Linked DNA regions of Homo sapiens: all the other regions are reported to be linked to region 4. The links are microRNA targets in miRTarBase. Many come from high-throughput screens and were not tested one by one. Region 4 holds a microRNA gene; each other region holds the end of a gene's coding sequence. Distances are between the middles of the regions.

Region 1 (3,000 bases), 6.4 Mb from region 4:
TAATTTGCACAAACAAAAATAACTCCACTTTCCCTTGCTCCTAGTCACAACGAATACCACTCTTCCTCAAATGGAGACAAAAATGACTCACAAGCCCCTCACCTGGCACAAGGGGGCTTGTAACTTCAAAGCAACCAAGGTTGGGCTCTTCCTCCAAGCAGAAAAATTCACAGCCTTTTATATGTCAAGTTTTCTCTCAACTAGGAAGTCGTTAAAGTTTTTAAGTACATTACATATTTTGTTAAGGAGCAGCAGGAAATATATAAATCTCCTCTCAGATGGTGAGATGGTACACCTAACTCATCCAAATAAAGTTAACCTATTTCACTCGTTTAAAGAGCTTGGAATTGAGGAACTTTTAAATTAAAAAAACTATCAACTGGGGCCAGGCGCGGTGGCTCACACCTGCAATCCCAGCACTTTGGGAGGCCGAGGCGGCCAGATCACCTGAGGTCAGGAGTTCAAGACCAGCCTGGCCAACGTGGTGAAACCCTGTCTCTACAAAAATACAAAAATTAGCTGGGCGTGGTGGTGGGCACCTCTAATCCCAGCTACTCGGGAGGCTGAGGCGGAAGAATCGCTTGAACCCAGGAGGCGACGTTGCAGTGAGCCAAGATTGTGCCACTGCACTCCAGCCTGGGTGACAGAGCAAGACTCCATCTCAAAGAAGAAAACAACAAAAAAATAAAAACAAAACAAAAATCAGTTGGAATTGCAAACACCGTGTGTGACTTTCACTCAAAGTATCGGTGTCAAAATGTCCTACAGGAACACCTAGAAGCACAGGTTGACTATACAGTACTACAAATAAGATACCCAAAGCTTTATCTTAAATACCTGCCCCTTTTAATCACAAAATAATGCAATGCTCAATTTTGTTTCTGCTTTGTTCAGTTCCAAGTGTAGCCTTTTGACAAAACATTTCCCTATTAACTGAATTGTAAAAAATACAACCAAGCTTGTGCTCATTAAATATACATGTATATAAAAAACATACAAAAAGTACAAGATTATGTTAGGAAACTTTTACAGTGTCAACATCCTGATTTCTCAAAATCTTCAGTAGAGGGCCAAAGGTCAAATCTTTCTGTGCACAAAAACTTGATGTGACTGAAATCCTGAATCAGTGTCATGCCTAGGCATGCTATGCACAGAATGAATTTTAATATGCAGTCCTCTTTTAAAAAAAAAAAAAAAGGACAAAAAAAGTAACCAAAAAAAAAACCAAAAACACACCACAGGACAAAAAGTTCTTCTTAAATCAAATTCTATTTGTGAATTCAGCAAAATAATTTCTATAAAATAAAACAGCAAAATATTTAAATAGAATAGGGTGGGCTGTATCTGTTTGCAGGGGTATTTGGTTTTTAGACAGGTTCCAAAAAATTACACACATTCAAGTTACCAATTCTCTTTTAAATACAGTATGAACTGAGGATTTCCTTATTTTTAATCAAATGTTTATTCTGAAATTGTAATATCTCAATTATATCAACCAGTAGTTTCTTTTTTAATGAGACCCTGCTTTGAACGTTAAACGTTTTGGAATAATGGAAAAGGAGCTAGGACAATTCTTGCTTTCAAGTAAAATTGTGACTGAGCAGAAAATCAGCCAGCTATCTTGGTGCAGAGAGGTACTCCAAGTACCGTGGGGTTCTGATGACTTCCACGTCACTGGGATCCAACAGAAGGAAAGTTTTAGAAGATTCACCTAATAAACTCTACCAAAGAAACAAAACAAGCACACCAAATACAGTCTTATATTATGCTCCAGCATCTTGGCATAGCAAATTTTTGCATATTTGTTTTAAATCTTTAAAAATTCCCATTACTGATACGTAAGTGTTCTTTATTCCACCCAGAGATTGAACTGTCAAACATTATATATAAGGAACATATGTGCAACTGAAAATAGACTGTCACATTTCTCCCCTTGTTTTATATTTTAATATTCTAGGTGTAAGAAGTAAAAGCTCTGAGTAATACAGCTGTCACTTCTCGGACAACTGCTGTCATTATGGTAACTTTTTCCTCATTGGCTACACTAACTTGGTGTGAAGCCATGCTAAATGTTACAGCATAACTATAGCTTCAAAGTGATTAACCTAATATCAGAATAAAAAGGCAATGAAAAAAATCTAGAAACAGTGTTACATCACCAATTTTCCACATCAACCAAATAATTTAAAGGTTACCAGCCTTACATTGCTCATAGCAAAATTGACTCCAGTGGCAAAGAATTAACATGAAACTATTGGTGTGGCTGACATGGATGGGCTCTGTTTTGTTGCTGTTGGTTTTTTTTTTTTCTTTTTTGTAAAGGAGCTGATCCAACTGCCATGAGGCAGGCAACACTGGTTGCAGAGTGCAGTGGGTGTAACAAGAAAATTAACTTTTGTAGTTTGTGTAGATCTGTGAGTCTCATCAAGAAAAAAGTTTCTTGCTTAAGAATTAACAGTCAACATTAATATACTATATACACCTTTGCCATTTACACATTAGCATCAGGCCATTTATTACAAAACACTATACACTTTCCACTGCAGGCGGGTTATATATTGACAGCAAATTTCTGCAGATAAGACAGTGAATAAACTCTCCACTCCATGTTGATTAGGAATAGTTTTTCTAGTTTTAAATATTAGCCAGACACAGAAAAAGGTTGGACTGTAAGGCCTGGGTGCACAGTCTTGATGGAACCAGTTAATTATGTGCATTTCATTGATCCTTGGTTTGAGGTGGGGATACTTCTTCACTGCCTTCATAATTTTCTTGTGCTCGTTGGCCAGTTCTCTGAGGGTTGTTCATGTGATGTGCTGCTGGGCCTGTATATGGCTGTCCATGCACATGGTTATTCTGGGAAAGGAGAAAAGATCTGTATGTTAAAACTTTTCACATAGTAAAACAACTTCAAAATCATGGTCTGAAGTCTCTGGAAATGTATACTCTTATTCTTGGGACTTACTCTGTAAATACCCTTGGACTACTATAGTGCAAAAC
Region 2 (4,297 bases), not on the chromosome of region 4:
CGTGGCCTCTGGTGCGTCCAGTTCTCTCCCATGGACCAGGTGCTGGCCACGGCCTCAGCTGATGGCACCATCAAGCTCTGGGCACTCCAGGACTTCAGCTGTCTCAAGGTAAGTGGCGCTCCAGACCCTCCCCACTTCCCGCCCTGGTGACATCTCATGCCCTACCCCCCACCTTGCAGACATTTGAGGGGCACGATGCTTCTGTGCTGAAGGTGGCCTTTGTGAGCCGTGGCACGCAGCTGCTGTCCAGGTGAGTGGGCTGGGGTGGGGCAGCGATGGAGTGGGGGGTGGCGGGGGGACCTGCCTGACGCTGAGCCTCTCCCCACCCCAAACCCAGCGGTTCGGATGGCCTCGTGAAGCTCTGGACCATCAAGAACAACGAGTGTGTGCGGACGCTGGATGCCCACGAGGACAAGGTCTGGGGGCTGCACTGCAGCCGGCTGGACGACCACGCCCTCACTGGGGCCAGTGACTCCCGAGTCATCCTCTGGAAGGTTGTGGGCCCCAAGGGCAGGGAAGAGTCGGGGTGGAGTGGAGGCCCCATCTGACCCTAGTCTAACCCCAGGATGTGACCGAGGCGGAGCAGGCAGAGGAGCAGGCCAGGCAAGAGGAGCAGGTGGTCAGGTAAGGCCAGGGCAGTGGCGCCCCTCCCCGCATCAGCCCTGCTCTGTGCTGTAGGGAAAACGAGGCTGAGTGCCAGGCTCCCTGCCTGCTGACTCCGATGGCTCTGCCTGCAGCCCCAGCCAGCGGCCCTCAGTGGCCTCTCCTCCCCTCCCCACAGGCAGCAAGAGCTGGACAACCTGCTGCATGAGAAGCGGTACCTGCGGGCGCTGGGCCTGGCCATCTCCCTGGATCGGCCCCACACCGTGCTGACTGTCATCCAGGGTCAGTGCCCACCCCGGGGGGCGAGGGGCTGGGTCTTCGGACCACTGGGCTCTGCTTTCCCCAGCTCAGCCTTCCCTTCTCCCACAGCCATCCGGAGGGACCCTGAGGCCTGCGAGAAGCTGGAAGCCACCATGCTCCGACTGCGGCGCGACCAGAAAGGTTGGCGGCCAGTCAGGGTGGGTGGCCCGGTGGGCAAGGGCCAGTCATGGCAGATTGGCTGGGCAAGACGATGAGGGTCCTGTTGCCCACAGAGGCCCTGCTGCGCTTCTGCGTCACGTGGAACACCAACTCGCGGCACTGCCACGAGGCCCAGGCCGTGCTGGGTGTGCTCTTGAGGCGAGAGGCCCCCGAGGAGCTGCTGGCCTACGAAGGCGTGCGGGCAGCGCTTGAGGCCCTGCTGCCCTACACTGGTATGTGGGCACAGCCTGGGGTTGGGGGATCCTGGTGGGCGTGTGGACCACCCCCCTGACCTCCCTCTGTCCAACCCCAGAGCGGCACTTTCAGCGGCTCAGCAGGACCCTCCAGGCCGCCGCTTTCTTGGACTTCCTGTGGCACAACATGAAGCTCCCTGTGCCGGCCGCCGCCCCCACCCCCTGGGAAACCCATAAAGGCGCACTGCCCTAGCCGGTCCGGCCTCTCTCCAGTCCATCCTGAACCCCTGGAAAACCCATAAAGGCCGCTCTCCTGGCCGGCTCTGTCTCTCTGGACTGCAGTCCAGCCCCCCACCCTGGCCAACACCCTACCTAGCCAGCCAGAAGGGCACTGGAGCTGATGGTCTCGGCCCTGCCACGCCCATCCCGCACCCTGGCCTGGCAGAGATCCAGCCCGCGGCTCCGCACGCTTAGACGGTGGGGGTCATGCAGAACAAGCTTTACTCAGAGGAACAGCAAATGGCCCCCTCCCATCCCTGCTGGCCAGGGAGATCCGCCCTCCCCGCTCCTCCCCAGCCCTGGGATGGCGCGGTCCATCCCCTCATCGGGATCCTCGCGCTCACTGCTCCGTCGTGGGGTGCGGCACAGAGTCCACGCACCCTCGAGGGCGGCCCTGGCGCCGTGGGCGCCGCTCCAGGGCCCTGCGTGTGACGGTGCAGCAGCGGCTCTGGATGGCGCCCGGCGAAGGTCGGGTGGGCACGGTGGGGGGAGGGGCGGTGGCCTGGGAGGGTTCAGGGAAGCCCCGGGCCTCACCCGCCGGGTCGTCTCCTCCACGGAACCCCGTCCCGCTCAGGAGAGCGCCCAGCCCTTCCGGCCGCAGCAGCACCGCGGGGAGTAGGCCCGCCCGGTCGCCGTACCTGCGAGGGGCGGGGTGTGGTTAGGGCCCCGCCCGCCTCGGCTAGCCTGCCCTGCCCACGCCCGCTCCCGCGTACCTGCATAGCCACCAGCCGCGGTCTGACGTTTCCAACACGCGCACGCGCGCCCCCGCGGGCACGGACAGCTCATCTGCGCGGCTGCTCTCGTAGGCGCGGGAAGCACAGAACTGGGGACCTGGTGGGAGTGGGTGTTTGGAGTCACCGCGGGGCCACAGAGGACGAGGCCCGCCCGCACCCTTCTCCACATTCTCCTTGCTTGAGTCTGCTGACGGCGGGGCCGCTCTAAGACCGGTTCGGGGCTTCCTCTAGGTGCGGAGACCAAGCACGGGCTCCTGGCCCGCCCTGCCCGCGGTGCTTCTGGCCCAGTCTTGCCACACGGTCAAGCCGCAGTGGTGGCGTGAGGGGTGGGGTTAGGCGCATACCGCTGCTCCCTAGGGACGGGCCTCCCTCCCGGCCTTGGCCCGGGGCCGCCTCCTCCAGGTAGGGCGCTGGAAACCAGGCGGTCTGCCGGTCTTCGTTCTCCACCAGCCACCAGCCTGTGCGCAAGAAGCGGGCAGGGACTCAAATCTCGAGGCTCCCTCGGGTCCAGGAGCAGAGGAGCAAATCCCTGGGTTCTTGGGGGGCCCTACCTGAGGGGTGCCGCAGCAGCACGTCCAGGCTCTCCTGGGCCTGCGCCTGAAAAGGCCTATCCCGCGTGTCCTGGGTACAGAAGGGCTGCAGGCAGCGCAGGCTCTGAGCCTCCAGACTGTGGATGGAGAGGCGGCCCGCAGCGCGAGAAAGAGGCTGCTCCTCTGGGGTGGGCAGGATCACCCGGCTGGGAAGGGCAGCCCGTACGAGTGAGAGGTAGGCGGATGGGGAGGGTGAAACTGGGGGCGCCACCCCGGCAAGACCGCCAGCCTCCCACTCTCTGCCCCTATTCGCTGGCTGTTCCCCCCCACCCTGGACCTCTCCCAGCTCCAAACGCCGCTGCATGCTGGGAGTTTGGGGCGAGTCAGGCACCTGCCGGGTGGCAGCGCGGGCTCCAGGTCCAGGGGTTGCGGTGCGAAGAAGCCAGTGATCGTCGGGCTCCGTGCCACGCGCTCTGCAGTCGCCAGCAGCCTCCGAGAATAGGTTTCCAACAGCTGCAGGCGCGCCAGGCCGCGGCTCGTGCGCCCCACGCGTCCCAACAGTGGTGCATCTTAAGGCACCACAAAAACGTACTGTGATACGCCGCTTTGGGCTTCACTGGTCCCTGGCGCCCCCAGGCAAGCCACCGCCTTCCCCGCTCCCGTACCCAGGCTGGCCTGACCGAGAAGCTTTGGGAGAACGCGGTCAGATCTCCGCAGCAGGCCCGCCTCCACCGGGAAGGTCTCCTTGAGGGTCTTCTGAGGGCGGGAACCAGGGCATTGGTCTTCCAGAGCCCACTGTGCACCCTTGAGAGGGCGGGGTCCCTCACCCGGATGGCAGGGGCTGGGAGCTTCAGCAGGGACGAAGGGCCTCCAGTGGGAGTCACTGATGGGAGGCAGTCCAGTGGGAGGCAGCCGCGTGGGGAAGCCGCCACCGCGGCATCAGGGTGGCCCAGGGTCACTCACCTTGAGCTGCCTGAATTCGTCCCAACTCCTGCGCACGAAGGTGTCGCTGCCGTCTGACCAGCGCACAGAGAAGGCAAACGTCTGGGGGACAAAAAGTTGGGAGTGCCGTGGAGGTGCTGGTCCAGGCACCCCCTTCCTATCCCTTGGGGCCACTAAGGACCCAGCCAGGTCTTACTTGGAGCCTCTTGATCTGCACCAGGGCTGCCCCTTGCACTGAAACTGGGTATCGGGGGCCTGCCATGGCTGTGGCTTCCAGGCTGCAGATTCCTGAAATGGGCGAGGACCCTTCTGCCTCCCCGTGCTTGAGAGGGCTCTGGGGGACCCAGAAAACCCCCTGGGATAGAATCCTGGCAACACCTCAAGCCTGTGGGGTCCTTGTGGAGCCGCCCCAGCTGAGTCCTTTGCAGCTTTCTTGCTGTCCCCCAAGCCCACGATCTGGGGGCAGGAGCACAGGGATTGGGGGACTTCCAGGCAGAGCTGCTGGGAGGAAGAAGAAGAATGAGCTTTCCAGCCCTGGAGGCGTGCAAGACTGAAG
Region 3 (4,484 bases), not on the chromosome of region 4:
TCAAAACCAGCTGGGTCAACATGGTGAAATTCCGTCTCTACTAAAAATAGAAAAAATTAACCTGGAGTGGTGGCAGATACCTGTAATCCCAGCTACTCAGGAAGCAGAGGCAGGAGAATCACTTGAACCTGGGAGGCAGAGGTTGCAGTGAGCCGAGATCGTGCCACTGCACTCCAGCCTGGGCGACACAGTGAGACTCTGTCTCAAAACAAACAAACAAACAAAAACAAAATAAAACAAAACAAAAAGACATTTTCTACATATACTATTATCACACCTGAGAAAACAGTTATTTGGCATTGTTATCTAATATGCAGTCTATATTCAAATGTTCTCAATTGTCCCGAAGATATCTTTATAGCTGTTTGCTGGGTTGTTGCTTTCTTTTATTATTATTATTATTTAGATATGATCTCACTCTGTCACCCAGGCTGGAATGCAGTAACATGATCATGGCTCACTGCGGCCTTGACCTCCTAGGCTCAAGTGATCCTCCCACCTCACCCCCCCAAGTAGCTGGGACCACAGATGCACACTACCATGCCCAGCTAATTTTCTGATTTTTTGTAGAGATGAGAACTCACTGTGTTGCCCAGGCTAGTCTCAAAATCCTATGCTCAAGCCATCCTCCCCTTTTGACCTCCCAAAAATGCTGGGATAACAGGCATTAGCTACTGCGTCCAGCTTTTGTCTTTTTAAATATCCAGAATACAATAAAGATTCAAACATTGCATTTGGTCATTGTATCTTACAAGTCTCTCCCCTTTTTTTTTTTTTCATGACACTGACTTTTTGAGAAGCCCAAGTCAATCATCTTATAGAATGACTACATTCAGGATTTGTCTAATAATTTCCTCATGATTAAATTCCAGTTTAACACTTTGTGCAAGAAAACTAAATAGGTAAAATTCTTAAGTCACATCAGGAGGGGCATAATGTTAGGGTGTTCCACCTTGGGTGATGCTAAATTGAATCACTTGGTTATTGTGGTGACCATTGTAAAGGTACATTTTCCCCTGTATAATTGATACCTCTTCTGTAGGATTATATTTAAATCCTTGTAGAAGATCCTATTCCACAATAGCTTTTCATCCAATAGTTTTAGCATCTATTGATGAACGTTACGTGAAAAATCTATGAACTGCTCTTTATGAACACTTTTTAAAGCCTTTATAAAACTATTTTCTCTTACTGTATTTTCACTTTTTGCTTAACCTAAATTTGGCCCTTTTTAAAAATCCTAAAATCATATGGCAGTTTTAGAATGGTAGCTGGTTGCTGCTATAGTTTGCATGTTTGTCCCCCAAAATCTCATGTTGAAATTTGATCCCAGTGTTGGAGGTGGGGCCTGATGGGAGGTGTTTGGGTCATGGGGGAAGACCCCTCATGAATACATTAATGCCGTCCCTGGGGGTGGGGTGTGCTGGGGAGGAGAAGCAAGGAGTTCTCAATCTATTAGTTCCCTCAAGAGCCGGTTATTTAAAAAGAGCCTGGCACCTTCTCCCTCGCTCTCTTGCTTCCTCTCTTGCCATATGATCTCTGCACATCCGGCTCCCCTTCACCTTCCACCATGAGTGGAAGCAGCCGGGGAAGAAGCAGATGCTGGTGCCATGTTTCTTGTACAGCCTGCAGAACTGTAAGTCATATAAATCTCTTTTCCTTATAAATTATCCAGCTTCAAGTATCCATTTAAACCAATAAGAAACAAACTAAAACAATTGCCCTAAGTTGAAATTCACCCTCAGGGTCGTCTTCTAAGATGCAATTTAAATTATCTTCTCTACAGCAATTCAGGACAACAAACTAGCATACCCCATGTTCCTCAAATATATCTTCTCCAGAGCTCATGCCAGACCCCTTGTCCAGACTTCCTGGGTGGTCTCCTCTCTACTCATCTAACACCCTGGCATATAGTTGGAAGGCCCACTGGGCTGTCACTTCTAGCCCTGTGCTCAGCAGAAAGCCATCTTACCCTTCCCGATGGACTATTTTCTGTTTTTAGCTACTGCCTTACAGCACGGTTGTCTTTAAAGTGGTTGTTACAATAGATACAAAATGTATTTAAGATAAAAGGTATAACTATGCAGCAAACACTAGTGGACCTACCATCCAGCTTAAGGAAGTTACCATTACCTTTGAAAGTCCATTTCCCCAATCACATCATTCCCCTCCCTCAAAGATAACCACCATCCAGAATTTAATATTTCTCATTCCCTTCCTTCCCATTATTGTCTCATCACATTTGTTGGGTTTTTTATACAAAATGATTTAGTTTTGCATGCTCTGGAACTTTATATAAATGGAATTATTCTGCATATATTTTCTGAAAACCTGCTTTGTTCGCTTAACATTATGTTTCTGAGAGTTGTATTGTGTTACGTTATTACATTTAGCTGTACTTCAATTGTTTTCAATACTATATAGTACTCCTGTGTGTGAATATAATTTTTTTAATCCATTCTTCTTTTGATGTGCATTATGGTTGTTCCCTGTTCTTTTGGCTATTATAAACAGGGTTTTATGGACATTCTTGTAAGCACGTATGTAGGAATAGAATTGATAGCTATGTGGGTATACATGGATTCAACTTTACTAGATAATGCCAAATTGTTTTCCGAAGTGGTTGTACATCACTTTTTTTTTTTTTTTTAATGAGTACCATATTTCTCCAGCTGGCTTGTAAGCTATGTGAGGCAGAGAACGATCTTACATTTTTTTGGCCTAAAAGCGGTAGAAATTTAATAAATAGATATGAATTGATTGATTCATTAATAGTATAAAAAGAAAATTTGGGGGTGGTTTTTCCATCTTTAGAACAAAGAGATGAGGCTGGGCGCGGTGGCTCATCCCTGTAATCCCAGCACTTTGGGAGGCCGAGGCAGGTGGATTACTTGAGGTCAGGAGTTTGAGACCAGCCTGGCCAACATGGTGAAACCCTGTCTTTATTAAAAACACAAAAATTAGTTGGGTGGGTGGCACATGCCTGTAATCCAGCTACTCAGGAGGCTGAGGCAGGAGAATCACTTGAACCCAAGAGGCAGAAGTTGCAGTGAGCCAAGACTGTGTCATTGCACTCCAGCCTGGGCAACAGAGCGAGACTCTGTCTTTAAAAAAAAAAAAAGAATAAAGAGATGAGCCAGGAAAAAGTAAAATGTAAGAATGTTTTTGAAGCAAAAAGAAGAAAACCTTTCTGTTTCTGCAGAAAGATTAGTAAAAATAGTAAAAAATTAAAGGAAACATTAAAATAAAAGGTAAATATCTATTGATATTCCCTAGCAGATTTTAGATAATTTAAGGAAAACTGCATATCAGAAGCAGGATACTTTTTCAGAAGGGCTCTAACATGTGTGTCGTTCATTTTTCTCTGGGCTTTTCTTCCACACAGTCAAGGTCCTTAGTATTTCAGATGTGTTAGGTCGATCCTCAGGTTTCTTTGAGAGTAATTTCTGTAGAAGAGTTTTCTGCAATGACAGTGAGAGTCAATAGTAAGAAATAAAACATTGAAATAAATAAAATTCTGATGATTTTCAAGTGCTTACTTCTTTTTTATCAAATATATCTGAGATGATGCCATCCCGTAGGTCTGTGAAAAACTGGAAAAAAAAATGATAGGTGTATATTAGGAAATTATTTACTTGGGAGGAAAGACAGAACTAAAGGCTGAGGAATACCTGAAATGTAGGATATTTCCAGATTTTTTGGGAAAGTCTCTTTAGCCAAGAAGCAAGCAGGATTCCCTCTCTCCTACACTACCCCCAATCTAATAACCATCCTTGCATTACGACATGAAGTGTTAAGTGCATCATCTTTACAATCTCCCTTCATGCATTTTGGAACCCTAAGTGATAGGTACTTCTAACTGTTTTACAGAGGATAAGGTTATTGACTCCAGGAAAGTTCCCTTTCCTGAGCTTAAGAGTAGGATATCCAGCTGGGTGCAGTGGCTCACACCTGTAATCCCAACACTCTGGGAGGCCGAGGCGGGTGGATTGCCAGAGGTCAGGAGTTCGAGACCAGCCTGACCAACATGGTGAAACCCCATCTCTACTAAATACAAAAAAATTAACCAGGCATGGTGGTGCACGCCTGTAGTCCCAGTTACTTGGGAGGCTGAGGCAGGAGAATTGCTTGAACCTGGGAGGCAGAAGTTACAGTGAGCCAAGATCGCGCCATTGCACTCCAGCCTGGGCAATAAAAGTGAAACTCTATCTCAAAAAAAAAAAAAAAAAGAGTAGGATATCCACTTGCCTACTGCCTTTAGTGACTCCCCACTGTCTAAGCAAGAAGGTCCACATTTTTTCCTCAAGTTAGCCCAACCTATCTTTCTAGCCTCACCAACCACTACTTCCTTGTAACTTATATACTCCAATACAACTTACACTGCCTGCTGTCCCCAAATACACTCTGTACATTCCCGCCTCCATGCTAGAATCAACTTTTCTGTTTTGGACTATTAGAAGCCAACAGATCCTTCAGAGCCCAGC
Region 4 (4,379 bases):
TAGGAACCACTGCAATGGGATCTTGCAGTCGGTGGGAGAGATTGGGCTCAACACTGAATATAGCATGGGCCAGTGGGAATGTGTAGCTAAGGAGCAGTGTGAGGGTCTGTGGGTGGAAATTACTAAGAAGAAACATCAGGGGTAAGGGGGATTCTGGCTAAACCGACGTAACAGGATTCTTGCTGAAGGCAGGCCAAGGGGAATCAGACATCACCTGGGGGATGGTGGAAGATGAAGAACCCAGTCAGATAGCAAGGATGATCAGGTATTGAGGATGATCAGAGATTGAGGATGATCAGAGATTGAGGATGATCAGGTATTGAGGATGATCAGAGATTGAGGATGATCAGGTATTGAGGATGATCAGAGATTGAGGATGATCAGGTATTGAGGATGATCAGAGATTGAGGATGATCAGATATAGAATATAGGGGTTCTTGCTAAACTGACTTAGCAAGGCTCTCGGCTAAAACTGGATTTTACAAGGAAGTGCACAGATGGGCCTAGGAGGAGGTTCAGGAGCCTGAGTAAAGTTTGGTCAAGCAAAGAATCTTTGTCAGCCCCTTACCCAGGTCTGTAATTCCCCATTATACTTAATGTCTAACATTCCATATCCTTATTTTGTTTGTTCTTAGCCTGTCTCCTCCTGGCTAGAATGTGAACTCCACAAGGAAAGGGATTTCTGTGTTTTGTTCACTGTTGTGTCCCTAACACCCAGAACAATGTCTGGCACACAGTGGGCACTCCCAAATATTTGAGGAGTAAATGAACAAATCAATGTATGAAAATGGCTTAAGCAGTGCCCGGCAAAGAGAGACACTCAACATACAGATGAATCAATGAACAAATGTGTAAATCACTTTGTGTGCTGTCTGGCATCCAATAACCCCTATTTATGTATGCGCTTTGCTGGTATGATGATGATGATGATGATGATCTTATTTTTATTGGCTCATGCAGTCCATTTGACTCATATTTCCCTCCTCTCCTGCAGTCATCAGGGCCAAGTTCGTGGGGACACCAGAAGTCAACCAGACCACCTTATACCAGCGTTATGAGATCAAGATGACCAAGGTATCCCCTGCCCCCGCCTCTTTCCCAGCATTTTCTAACATCTTCCTCCTGGTCAAAACAGAAACTTCTGGCCACTGGTTGGTGCGAGAAAGTTGGCTGTGATCTTGGGATGCTATATGACTTCAGGGAAGAACCTGGAGTGGGAGGATTATGTCAGTAAAAGAGACACTTCCCCTCATCCATCAACAGATGTATAAAGGGTTCCAAGCCTTAGGGGATGCCGCTGACATCCGGTTCGTCTACACCCCCGCCATGGAGAGTGTCTGCGGATACTTCCACAGGTCCCACAACCGCAGCGAGGAGTTTCTCATTGCTGGTGAGGCACCGTCCCCGCGCCCTGTGCCACACCAACCAGTCCCTGGGGCGCGGCCTAGCAACCACGAGGGGGCGAGGCTCTGATGGGAATGGTCCCACTGGAAATGGGGACCACCCCAATTTCAGTCTATCAGAAGGCCGGGCCTTTGGCAGCTTGGCAGCTCAGCCAATCACAAGCTGCTTGTCGGTCCCCGCCCCGCCTTTCTCCTTAGGAAAACTGCAGGATGGACTCTTGCACATCACTACCTGCAGTTTTGTGGCTCCCTGGAACAGCCTGAGCTTAGCTCAGCGCCGGGGCTTCACCAAGACCTACACTGTTGGCTGTGAGGAATGCACAGTGAGTGCCTGGACCCTGACCTCCAACGGGAGATCCTTCCCGGGGCCATTCCCTAAATCGTGGGCTTGTTTCTTGCTCCCTCTGGCTATTCTGTGTCCCTGTGGCTGCTCCCCAACCCTAAGGGCTGTCCCTGATCTCTCTTGCTATTTCCCCAAGCCCGAGACTGCTCCCTTACAAATTCTGGCTGCTCCCTTTCCCTGTGTCCAATACCGTGTGATCACCTGTCCCTCCCTGGTCCCTCTAATTCTCCCTTGTGACTATTCTGTAATCCCACTCCCCGTTCCTGAGCCCCCGGGATTGTTTCTTGGTTCCCCAGAATGTTCTCCAAGAACCCAAAGTGCTGTTCCCTAATCCCACTGACCCTTCCTCAGCACATCTGCTTGTTGCTCTGCAGCTCTGACTATTCCAGACACCAGAGGGTGTTACACTGACCTCCTGGCTAGTCCAAGCCTGTTCCCTGATGGCTCCTGATGGCCTCTGAGCCCAGTGACTATCTTGAAGCCCCACTGGCTATTCCTGTGCTTAAACTCCTTAGCCGCCAACCGGGTGGGGCCCCTTACTACTGCCAGTTTTTCCCTGTCCTTTGGGACAATTCCACAGGCGACCTGCCTGACTGACCCCCAGGGCCTATTCCCCAGCCACCATTCCAGGACACTGATTTACTGGCTTACTGTTACCTTTCAGGACCCAGTGACATTTCCCTCAATGGGAGGGGCTGTCCTGGGGTATGTACTTAGGTGGGGTGAGAGCAAGTCTCCCCAGCGGCTCAGTGTTGAAAGCTGAGGAGAGGAAGTTCTGCTCCACGGGGGAGGCAGGGAGAAGCCCTCAGAGATGTTTCCCTCCTCCCTTCCAGGTGTTTCCCTGTTTATCCATCCCCTGCAAACTGCAGAGTGGCACTCATTGCTTGTGGACGGACCAGCTCCTCCAAGGCTCTGAAAAGGGCTTCCAGTCCCGTCACCTTGCCTGCCTGCCTCGGGAGCCAGGGCTGTGCACCTGGCAGTCCCTGCGGTCCCAGATAGCCTGAATCCTGCCCGGAGTGGAAGCTGAAGCCTGCACAGTGTCCACCCTGTTCCCACTCCCATCTTTCTTCCGGACAATGAAATAAAGAGTTACCACCCAGCAGACACTGTTTCTGTGTAGTGCCTGGGAACAAACCCATGTTGCTGATGACCTGGTGTGAGCACCCTGGGACCAGTGGGGATGAGGGATGCCAAATGTTGGGTTTTTATATTTTACTTAAATTCTGATGTACTGGTAGTAATTCTCAACATTGGCATTAGCACTGATGATCTGCAACAGCAGCAATGGTCACTGAACCTGCATTATCAACCGTAACCTCTGAATAATTTCTCCAGCCAATACTTTAAAACATTTTCCTATACTGATTCCTAATTGCTATTTGCCCAGGGCTTTCTAGTTATAAATTATCCCACAGCTGACAAATCACTGCCTTACTGGAAATTCCCCATTCACACATCTTGCCAGCTGACAGAGTCATTGACAAATGCCCTACCAATTGGCAAATGACTATCATTGCCTCAAGCACAGTCCTGATGTTGTCCAGTGAGGATGCCCCATCCAAACACGTGGGTGTTACTGTCCTCATCCTCAGGTTTTGTACCATGAGTCTGACTTGAGTGAAAGGGGACCCAGGGCACCCAGAGTCCCACAGTAACCCAGCTGGGGACTTGGGAAGAAGGGGTGGCCCTGGCTCCCCAGCCATGGCTGCAGGACATTCCTTGGAAGGGACTGTTTGGGGCAGAGGAGAGGTGGGATGGAGAGAAGGTATGAGCTAAAAATCCCCAAGCTCTGCCATCCTCCCTCCCCTACTTCTCCCCTCACTCCTCTGACCAACTTGGAAGGAAATACTGACAGCAATGAAATGCAGGTAGGGTTCAAAATTAAGACCAGCCAGATATGCTGGCCCATACCCTCCACACACCTCCCTCAACCCAACTGTCCCCTCACCCAAACTAGGGTCTCTAGACTCGACCCTCACCTTTATGAATCATCCTTTCTCTAGAAAAACTGAGTGAGAGAACCTCCAAATACTCCCCTCTGAGGCCTTCCTGCTTCCACAGCGGGGTCCAGTCCCTGGCTCCTGCCCCTCATACTCCAAAGGTCTTGACTCAAGTGAGGCCCTTGGGAACTAGAATTTCAGACTGGTGCAAACATTCAATGGAGCACCTGTGTCCTCCTGACCTGAACGTGCTTGAAAAGGGCCCCAATATATCTCCTTTGGTAAAGAAAAGGACCCCCAAATTCCCTCTCATCAGAGTACCCACTGCTCTTACCAGTAAGAACCCAGGTCTCCTCCAGGGCATTCTAGGTCACCAAGCACAGCCCCCTGGATCTTCTGTGGTCCTGTCCCAGAGCCTTTTACACTCCTGGGAGGTTACCCCACGGCCCAAATTATGTCCCGGATGGGAATGGGCAGATTTTGAACACACAGTACTCAGCCACTTAAGCAGGGAATGCGCATGCAGCAACAATTTCTACATCAACATCTACACCTTGGTTACGCCCTCGGAGGGTCTGAACCTTGTCCACCGAAGGGGCCAACCGCAGCCTTTGCTGATGGGCACAACTGTAAGGTAAGGGCCCGAGCCCTGGTTCATCCCTGGTGACCTTGTCAATGTTCCCTCAGCTGCCT

What was found. Region 4 holds the annotated microRNA hsa-miR-4769-3p (UCUGCCAUCCUCCCUCCCCUAC, at 3,535-3,556, shown strand). A microRNA usually pairs through its seed, bases 2 to 8, with sites in the 3' UTR of a target mRNA and lowers its output. Matches are read on the target gene's strand: a 7mer-m8 pairs with bases 2 to 8, a 7mer-A1 pairs with bases 2 to 7 and ends in A, and an 8mer does both.
Region 1: the mRNA of USP9X is a reported target of hsa-miR-4769-3p. Seed matches in the 3' UTR shown: 7mer-m8 at 2,335-2,341.
Region 2: the mRNA of TBL3 is a reported target of hsa-miR-4769-3p. Seed matches in the 3' UTR shown: 7mer-A1 at 1,696-1,702 and 7mer-m8 at 3,631-3,637.
Region 3: the mRNA of EIF2AK2 is a reported target of hsa-miR-4769-3p. The part of its 3' UTR that is shown has no 7-base or 8-base seed match.

The regions. Positions count from the first base shown.
Region 1 is chrX:41,232,243-41,235,242 of GRCh38, reverse strand. It overlaps USP9X (ubiquitin specific peptidase 9 X-linked), which reads right to left. Exons shown (of 45, transcript NM_001039591.3): 45 at 1-2,856. The coding sequence ends at 2,719. Among named protein-coding and RNA genes, the nearest start is that of LINC02601, 42 kb to the left of the region's middle.
Region 2 is chr16:1,977,177-1,981,473 of GRCh38, forward strand. It overlaps TBL3 (transducin beta like 3), which reads left to right. Exons shown (of 22, transcript NM_006453.3): 15 at 1-108; 16 at 180-250; 17 at 338-494; 18 at 566-624; 19 at 782-885; 20 at 973-1,044; 21 at 1,137-1,295; 22 at 1,376-4,297. The coding sequence ends at 1,509. NOXO1 (NADPH oxidase organizer 1) reads right to left here and starts at 4,293. Exons shown (of 8, transcript NM_172167.3): 1 at 3,938-4,293; 2 at 3,763-3,843; 3 at 3,480-3,555; 4 at 3,191-3,368; 5 at 2,821-3,005; 6 at 2,614-2,727; 7 at 2,249-2,366; 8 at 1,741-2,173. The coding sequence starts at 4,003. The coding sequence ends at 1,876. RefSeq lists enhancers at 836-1,415, 1,416-1,995, 1,996-2,575, 2,576-3,153, 3,154-3,733 and 1 more and silencers at 2,140-2,259, 3,052-3,346.
Region 3 is chr2:37,103,935-37,108,418 of GRCh38, forward strand. EIF2AK2 (eukaryotic translation initiation factor 2 alpha kinase 2) reads right to left here. Exons shown (of 17, transcript NM_001135651.3): 16 at 3,540-3,593; 17 at 1-3,461. The coding sequence ends at 3,339. Among named protein-coding and RNA genes, the nearest start is that of GPATCH11, 22 kb to the left of the region's middle.
Region 4 is chrX:47,583,942-47,588,320 of GRCh38, forward strand. MIR4769 (microRNA 4769) reads left to right here and starts at 3,488; the gene lies at 3,488-3,564. The region is part of intron 5 of SYN1 (synapsin I); the gene reads right to left. It overlaps TIMP1 (TIMP metallopeptidase inhibitor 1), which reads left to right. Exons shown (of 6, transcript NM_003254.3): 3 at 995-1,074; 4 at 1,264-1,390; 5 at 1,602-1,726; 6 at 2,580-2,848. The coding sequence ends at 2,750. RefSeq lists a silencer at 3,349-3,643.